Linked DNA regions of Homo sapiens. The protein of the gene in region 2 purifies or fractionates together with the protein of the main gene of each other region. This does not show direct contact. Each region holds a gene or a part of one and is shown on either strand. Other genes may lie near its edges. The genes, in order: NACC2 and C11orf71.

What was found.
Region 1: the proteins of C11orf71 (region 2) and NACC2 purify together in Homo sapiens (affinity purification with mass spectrometry; one large-scale study listed by BioGRID and IntAct). This does not show direct contact.

The regions. Positions count from the first base shown.
Region 1 is NC_000009.12:136,050,032-136,053,840, forward strand, and holds part of NACC2 (nucleus accumbens-associated protein 2), read right to left. Parts: intron 550-3,809; 5' UTR 491-549; coding exon 1-490.
Region 2 is NC_000011.10:114,397,723-114,401,710, forward strand, and holds C11orf71 (uncharacterized protein C11orf71), read right to left. Parts: upstream 2,790-3,988; 5' UTR 2,610-2,789; coding exon 2,238-2,609; 3' UTR 810-2,237; downstream 1-809. Other genes in the region: RBM7 (RNA-binding protein 7), read left to right, coding at 2,950-3,045, 3,976-3,988.

The DNA.
Region 1 (3,809 bases), on a different chromosome or scaffold from region 2:
AGGGGGACACGACGTAGGGGGCCGCGGCGGCGGCGGCCGGCTGCAGCTGGTTGCAGGGGCTCTGGGGCTCGGAGCCGGCGTCCTCGATCACAGCGGTCTGCGAGTCGCAGTGGGGCGAGCTCACCTTGAACATGAGGTCGGTGCCGCGCTCCACGATGTGCTGGATCTGCAGGAAGCCGGCCGTGTACATGACCACGAGCTGCTCGCTGGCCGTCATGGTGAGCCTGCCCGTGTAGCAGAAGGACAGGATCTGCTGGAAGCAGGCGGGCGGCACGGAGCCGGGCAGCTCGAAGGCGCTCTTGCTGTTGCCGCTGAACAGGTCGCGGAAGTAGAGGCTGCTGGCGGCCAGCACCGCCCGGTGGGCCTTGAAGGCCTGGCCCTTGACCACGATGGACACATCGCAGTAGAGGCCCAGCAGGCGCTGCTCGTTCAGGCAGCCCAGCACTGTGTTCCCGAAGTTGGGGATCTCGATGTGCAGCATCTGAGACATGGCGGGCGGGCAGCGGCGGGGCTGGGCTCTCAGCGCGGGGCGGCCCTAGCGGGGCTCATCTGTGGGGGGCAGGAGGCACGTGGTCAGTTCCTCCAGGTCACGGGCTCCCCGCTCAAGGGGCCGTTCCCACCCCCTCCTCCCCCGCCGGGGGCTTACAAAGAGCGAGCCTTCCGCACGCGCCCTCCCCCGCCCCTCCTGGCTGGGACACTCCAGAGAAGGGACACGGGGTCTCCCAGACCCCCTGGCAGACGGGCAAGAGGGCCCGGCCAGCACTGCTGCAGATCCCCGGGGTGCTGCCCGGCAGGAGTGCGCCCACGCCACTCCCAGGGGGCTGCTCTTAGCGACTCGGTCTCAGCAGGCGAGGAGGAGCGCAGGCCTGAACCTGCCCCGGGACAGGAGGTGGGGGCCGCCGGGGGAGCCTCTGGGCAAACCTGCAGCCACTCTCCTCCCCTCAAAAAAGTTCCAGCCCGCACAGGAGCTCCCGGGAGGGGCCGCGCTGGAGCAGCGGGGAAGGAGGGAGGGAGGGGGGTCTCTGGAGCTGTGCAGTTTGCGGTTTGCTTTCCCTCTCTTCCCTCCGAGCAGCCTCGCAGAGGGCCCCTGCGGGGAAGGCGGGCCAGCGTCCCCTAGTCCCCCTGAGCCTCCCGGGCAGGTAGGGAATGGCTGGGGGTGCCGGGAAGTCCGCTGAAGCCGCGTCCACTCCTCCCTCGCGCAGAGAGACCACCCTGGGCGCGCCCGCTCCGTTCTCCCGTGCTCTCCTGGCTCGGACCAGACCCAGGTTCCCAAGCCGCCGCCAGGGCAGGAGTTGGGAAGCCTGTCGCAGCCCCACTCGCGGACGCCCCCCACCCCGCTCGCCTCGCTCCCCACGCGGGCCAATCCCGACGGCCCGGCCCCAACCCAGGTGACTACAGGGGTCCCAGCCCTCGCCGGGCTGCCCGGACCCCGGGGCTGGGAGCTGGGGAGGGCGCCGCTGTTTATCTGGTGCGGACTCCGGAGGGGGCGGGGGCGGCCCAGAAGGCGCCAGCCCAACTCCGCAGGGCCGCACAAAGGCCGCTGTGTCCCACGGGAGGAAAGTGCGGGCGGCCGCAGAGGCGCCGGGTGGCGGGAGGAGGGCGGAGCCACCGCGCCGGGAGCTGGGCAGGTGGACGCGCGCCGGGGGCGGCCCGCAGTGCCCCCGCTGCGGAGAAGTTGCCGGCCGGTCGGGAAGACCTACCTTCAGCCGCTGCGGCCGCCGGCCGGCACTGCCCGCTCCGCCTGGCAGGACAGGCTCCCCGCACGCAGCCCGCCTGCCCAGCTGCTCCGCGAATGCAGCAAACGGAGCGGGAGCCCTGGGGCGGGGAGGGCGCAGGGAGCCGGCAAGGAGGAGGAGGAGGAGGAGGAGGAGGAGGAGGAGATGGTGGAGGAGGAGGAGGAGGAGGAGGGCAGAGCGCCTGGGCGCTGGGCTCGCGGCCGCAGCTCAGCTGCACCCAGGCCGGCCCTCCCGGGCAGCGCACCGCATCTCAATGAAGGGGCCGGATGCAGACGAACGTTCCGGCGGCTCGGGAATGAATAGCCGCCTTTGATTTGGGAGCCGAAGTAAATGCCAGCTCCCAGCCCCGGCTTTAAAAACAGTGGAGTGTTGGTGCCAGAGGAATGCGCGGCCCCGGGTGCTGGTACGAGACAGACTTTTGATGACTCACTGCAATGCAAACAAAGATGGCAGAAATACTGTACAGTAGTGGAGAAATGCTTCCCGGTGCCACGGCAACTGAGACAGCCTGGAAATTTATGGTGCAGTTTTGCATATGAATTACCCAGTAAACTGCCTCCCGGCCTTCCAGGACAGCCCCAGTGTCAAAGCATTTAAACTATTCCAAACAGTCTGCAGAGCTGGCAGAGCTGAACTCCTCCAGCGAGGGTGGGGAATGGGCAGAGGCGCCAGGGGGAGGGGGTGAGGGGGTCAGGACAGCTAGGGGAGCCAGGGAAGGGGAGGGGAGGTACAGCAGGGGGTGAAGAGAGGCACAGAAACGGCAGGCAGTGGGTGGGTGAGGCGGCACCCCAGGTCCTGGGGGCCTTAGAGCTGTGTCCTCTGCCCAGGCGGCAGGCCCGGGAGTCCAGCCCCAGCACCCCTCCCCATCCCACTCCCAGCGCCCTCCTGGCACTTTAAGAAAAGAGCGACTTTGTGGCCGGGCAACCAGGAGCCGGAAGGGGCAGCCCCGCCTGAGAGGTCCCAGCAGAGGGCAAAGCGGCCGCCTCGCTCCTCCCGCACACTCCTGGCTGCGGCCACACAGGCTGCACCTCCTGCCCAAGGGGGTCTGCAGCGTCTGGCTGTTATTGAGCCTTTTCCTGGGAAGGGGCTGCTGCTGTGCAGGACTTGTGGTGGCCCCGGGACCCCTCCAGAGAATGTGTACTTCATCCTGGGCTCATACCAGCCTCTCTGCGTGGGGCCCTGAGGCTGACCTCTGGACTGCCCAGCCTCAGTTTCCCTGCCACTGGCTGTGACCCCCAGGAAGAGCACATTCCACCCAAAAGAAGGGGCAGGGTCCAGGCTCGAGGCCTTGAGGTGAGCCCCCTCCTGCTTGGCCAGCTGCCTCCACCACCCTCGGGGTAACCCTGGCAGCAGGATGCGGAGGAGGCCCGAACAGGCCTGGTGGGAGGCAAGGCGACACAGCCCTGCCCCTCACTCCCGGCGCCCCTCTGAGGCATCCGGAGACCAGAGAGAGGGCCATCTGGCTCCTCCCTAGTCACACACCATGGGCTCAGCTTCTCCAGACCAGACAAAAAGCCACTGAATGGGGACGGGAAGAGATCCAGGTGCGGGGAAGCTGCCGGCAAAGGCCCGTGGAGGTGGCTTCGTGCCTAGTGTTTTCTGCCTCCTACAAGGGGCTGGTGACAACTCAAGGAGACTGGGATGGGGGCGTTTACAGAAACGTCCCCACTCGGCCATGCTGATGAGCTGGGCTCCACCGGGCCAGGAGACACAGGGCCCAGCTGTCACCCTCCCCGCCACACCCTCCACCCTCAGGTCCCCACTTAGTTTCTGCCTCATCCAGGAAGTCTGCCAAGTGCCCTCATAAGCTCGGCAAGGGCTGAATGCTGGACACAACCCGGGCAGGGGGGTACAAGAGAGGGGCCTGTGCAACACAGCACAGAGGGCAGAGGCCCCTAGACAGCTCCCTTCACAGACCCACTGCGCCCACCACCAGGAGCCTCCCAGAGAGCCCGTGGCTTCTGTTGTGGGCAACTTCGCCCCAAGGACGGGGGGGTAGGGATGTCTGAGTCATACAGGGGCTTTTGTACCAAAAGAGGGGACAGGCAGAGGCCAGCACGGCGCACCGGTTCC
Region 2 (3,988 bases):
CCTCATAAGCTAAAAAATATGCTTCCAATGCATATTTAGTGCTGAATCATTTTGTAGGTGATAATTACATGAGCCAACTGGTCTGCCTGTCACCTTGGCATAATTGATGGCACCCTCTTCCACTCCCAAGTGCCCTCATTTGCTGATATGGTCACCCAATATGTCATACCTAATTTTTCTCTCCTCATCCCCCAACTCCCCATTTCAACTTTAACCGAGTTTATTTTTTAAAGCATAGGATTATATACTAAATGGGAAAAAATGAAGAAGTCATCTAGTCATATTTCGCACTATGAGGATTCCTTTGACAAAATCCTTCACAAGATTCAGCCTCTCTGAACTTTCTGGCAGCTAATTCATTACCTTTTGAGGTGGTATTTTCCACTACTAGGCATCTCTAAGTTTTAAGAAAGGCTTCTTTATCTTCAGCTTTAATTTTATTCTTCTTCCCCAGTCTAACACTCTGTTTATAGTTTGGAATTCCTTTCTCAACCACGGGTTTTTGTAATGCCCAGATTAAGCCATCCATTGTATATTACAAACTAACTTCTTTTTAGTTATCTGAAAAAAAATTAGTTATATATTATCCTTGGGAAAATTGAGAAAATAGTTACTCAAGTCATTTTTTTTGCATTCAGATGAGGAACCTCATTTGAAAGGCTGCAGGGCTCTATCATTTACTAGCTATATGACCTTGGAAAGTTTATCTCCTTCACGCTGTTTTTCAGTAACAAAATGAAAGTAGAGTACCCCTCTTATGGGCTGCTGTGAGAATCAAATAACATATAAAGTTCCTTAGGAACACATACTTTTATCATGTTCACCACTTTATTCTAAGTGCTTACCGCAGGCAGTAGCAGGTACAGAGTAAGTTCTCAATAAATATCTCTATAAACAATAGAAGTCCTAGCACACTGACTTGCACATAGCACTCAATAAAAGGTAGCTATTACTATTCTTTCAATCATTCTTCCTATGATCTGGTTTCTAGAATTCTCACTATATTAATCACCCTCTTATGGAAGCTATCTTGTTTACTCAACATTCTTCTTAACACGTAGTTATAACAATTCAATACTATGTGGTGTATGGAGATTTTGCTTTATTTGAAGATAATTATTTTAAGGAAGTCTAAACAGACAAGCGTCTGCTGGGAAAAAGCTAGTCTACCTGCTTATATAAAGAGCTGGCACTTACAAAACCCATTAACTTTCTCAAAATACCACCCTTTAAACATTGGGAAATGTATGGTTAAGAGAACAAAAATAACAGCAAATAAGGAGTGATCAGCCAGGTAAGAGAAGAACCAGGATAGTGCAGTATTATGATGAAAAAAAAAAAAAAAAAGTCACTGCAACCAGTACTTATGTTTATTACTGTACCTAATAAACAGCCCAGCGTGGTGATTCCTATTCACTTAGTAGCCTCCCCATCTAGAATATACTCCGTGATCTTTCTTGATGGCCAGACTGTGTAAAATTCATACAGTGTTTACTACAGGGATCCCCAAATATTGTTAGTTGAATGAACAAACACACATTTCAAGGAGGGCACTACAGTGAGTAGATGAACAGTTTTCTGATAGGAGATTGTACAAGTAATGTTTTCACCAGTGTATTTTAGGACAGCAGATTCAGATTAATGCGCTGGGACTGAATGCAAATAGTAAAATTACAAATATAAAGTAAAAATTTGGAACCTTTGCCAAAGAAAGGAATAATAAATTGATTTAATAATTTGAAAGAACTGTAAGGTTTAGGTTTTGTTCTTATTTTTAGTGCGACTGAGATTGGAGTCTGTTTGTAGACATATCTGAAAAAAGTGAAGGGGGAGATGGAAGATGGTAAATGCCAAGGAAAAGATGGAAGGATAAATCAGTGTAATAAAAAGGAGCACTTCTTTTTCGCCAACAGAAGTAAAGGTAAAGGTTAAGTGTCTGAGTTAACGAATGGATTGTTGACCTCTGGGGAGGGTGCTCCCATCAGCTCAGCTTTGTGACGACCTAAGAATATCCCTTCCACACCTTTCCTGATCCAATCGTTCTGGCTGCATAAAACCACCTAAATCAATCAACTGTTACACTTCCCTTAGTGCTAGGACATATTCATATAACTCCCACGTATTAAATGAAAATACATCCATCTAAAAATAAAACAACACGATTGCTGCTACACCAAGAAAGGATTTTAAAAAGGCCTGTTCACAAGCTAAGTGAGGGCCAGAGGAAAGGTGTTCGTTTAAACTGAAATTCGAGCTGCGATAACACCTCCTAATGCAATCAAACGCTGTTGCAGCACACTTCTTAGGAGATCGGGTTCAACGGCAGGGATTGGGTAAGGTGAGAATCTGGCTTGGCGGCTCCGGCCCCGGCCATCTGGTTCCCTTGGGCTCCGGCCGCCACCATCCACTCGACGGCTCTCGGCCCGAACGCTTGGTCGCACCGCCTGCCGAGGTCCTAGATGAATCGCTTCAGGCCTGGAAACGAGGAAGCCGTCTCCGGAGACCATCGCCAACGCTGACGCCCGCGGTCTGAGGTCGCCATGGGAAGAGCGGTAGGCCACCCTGCTCCTCTGATCACCGGAGGACAGGGACACATTGTTCAGGGCCATATTCAAACACTGCCCGCAGTACTTGCGTTACGTCCCTTTGTGAAGGCAGGCCCTTCGCGGCTCCCCAGATCAGTCCAGCCTGTGTCGGACCCGATGACTAAGCACACAGGAACCCATAACTGAGCCTGCGGAAGAGCCAGAAGCCGCCTTGCCTTTAACGAGGGGTATCCTGGCGAGCATGCGCAGACCGTCCGCGCACGTCGTCGCCCGCTGAGAGCAAGCGCAACGGGCGTTTTCGTTTGTGACGCCAGGGAGCGTGAGGACGTGGGGCTTCCGTGAATGCGCAGTGGGTGCGTCGGCCACGACCTTTTGGCCAGGTTAGGGAGGGGGCGACGCTGAGATGGGGGCGGCGGCGGCGGAAGCGGATCGCACTCTCTTTGTGGGCAACCTTGAAACGAAAGTGACCGAGGAGCTCCTTTTCGAGCTTTTCCACCAGGTAAGCGGCTGGGTTCGGCCCTTTGCCTTTCGTTTTCCGTCTCGCCTAGGGCCTGGCCAGCGGCCACCCCGTTTTCTTTTCGTAGCCGTCAGGGGACCCGACGGGTGGCTGTTTGGGGGTGAAAGGCGGGTCTGGGTTGCGAAACGCTCGCTGGGTGTCGCTTTCCTGGAAGATCTTGGTTCGTTTAGGCCGAAAGTGACGACTAAAGGTGGTGGAGGGATCCTCGATCAGGTTTCCCGTGGTAGAGATCCAGGGGTCCTTGGGAACACAGTGTGTGTGTAGGGTCTTCGTTGAGCAGTGCTTTTTCTTATCCTTCCTGTTGTCATCTTCCCCTTAGGATAATTTGTCTTTGGTTTATCTGACTGGGAACTTAATATTTTAATTTATTTGTGTCTGTTTTCCCCTAAAGTTTGCTTATCAAATTGCAGCATTATTAAAATATGTAAAATAAAATGGTTAAGTACTCCGTAGAAAAACAGCATTTTAGTGTTGCTGTATTAAAAAGTGTGAAAAATTCTGAGTATCCTATTCCCCCCATCCCTATCCCCTAATAACTGGTATTGTTTGATTAATCAATACAAAAGTCCGTTTTTAGTTAAAGAAAATCATTCTCTTGTTCTTGATAAATGTTCATTTTCATGGAGTGGCAAAATAATGGCGATTGGTCACTATGTTAAGCCATACAGTGCTGTGAATTGCAAAAGTGATTGTGTTTCCAGTTCCTTATGGGCCCCCTTCCCCAAATAAATCTAATGTTCAGTCATAACTAGGATGTTTACTGTAGCCAAAATGGAAATCCGTGCATCATTTTCAAAAGAAGTTTCTGATTACGTTTCTGTTGTTTTTAAACTTTGTCATATCTTATTTGTAAAATTTGAGTATTTTCCCTTAGTTGCTTTATTTAAATTCTAAACACCTTTTTGTTTGTAGGCTGGGCCAGTAA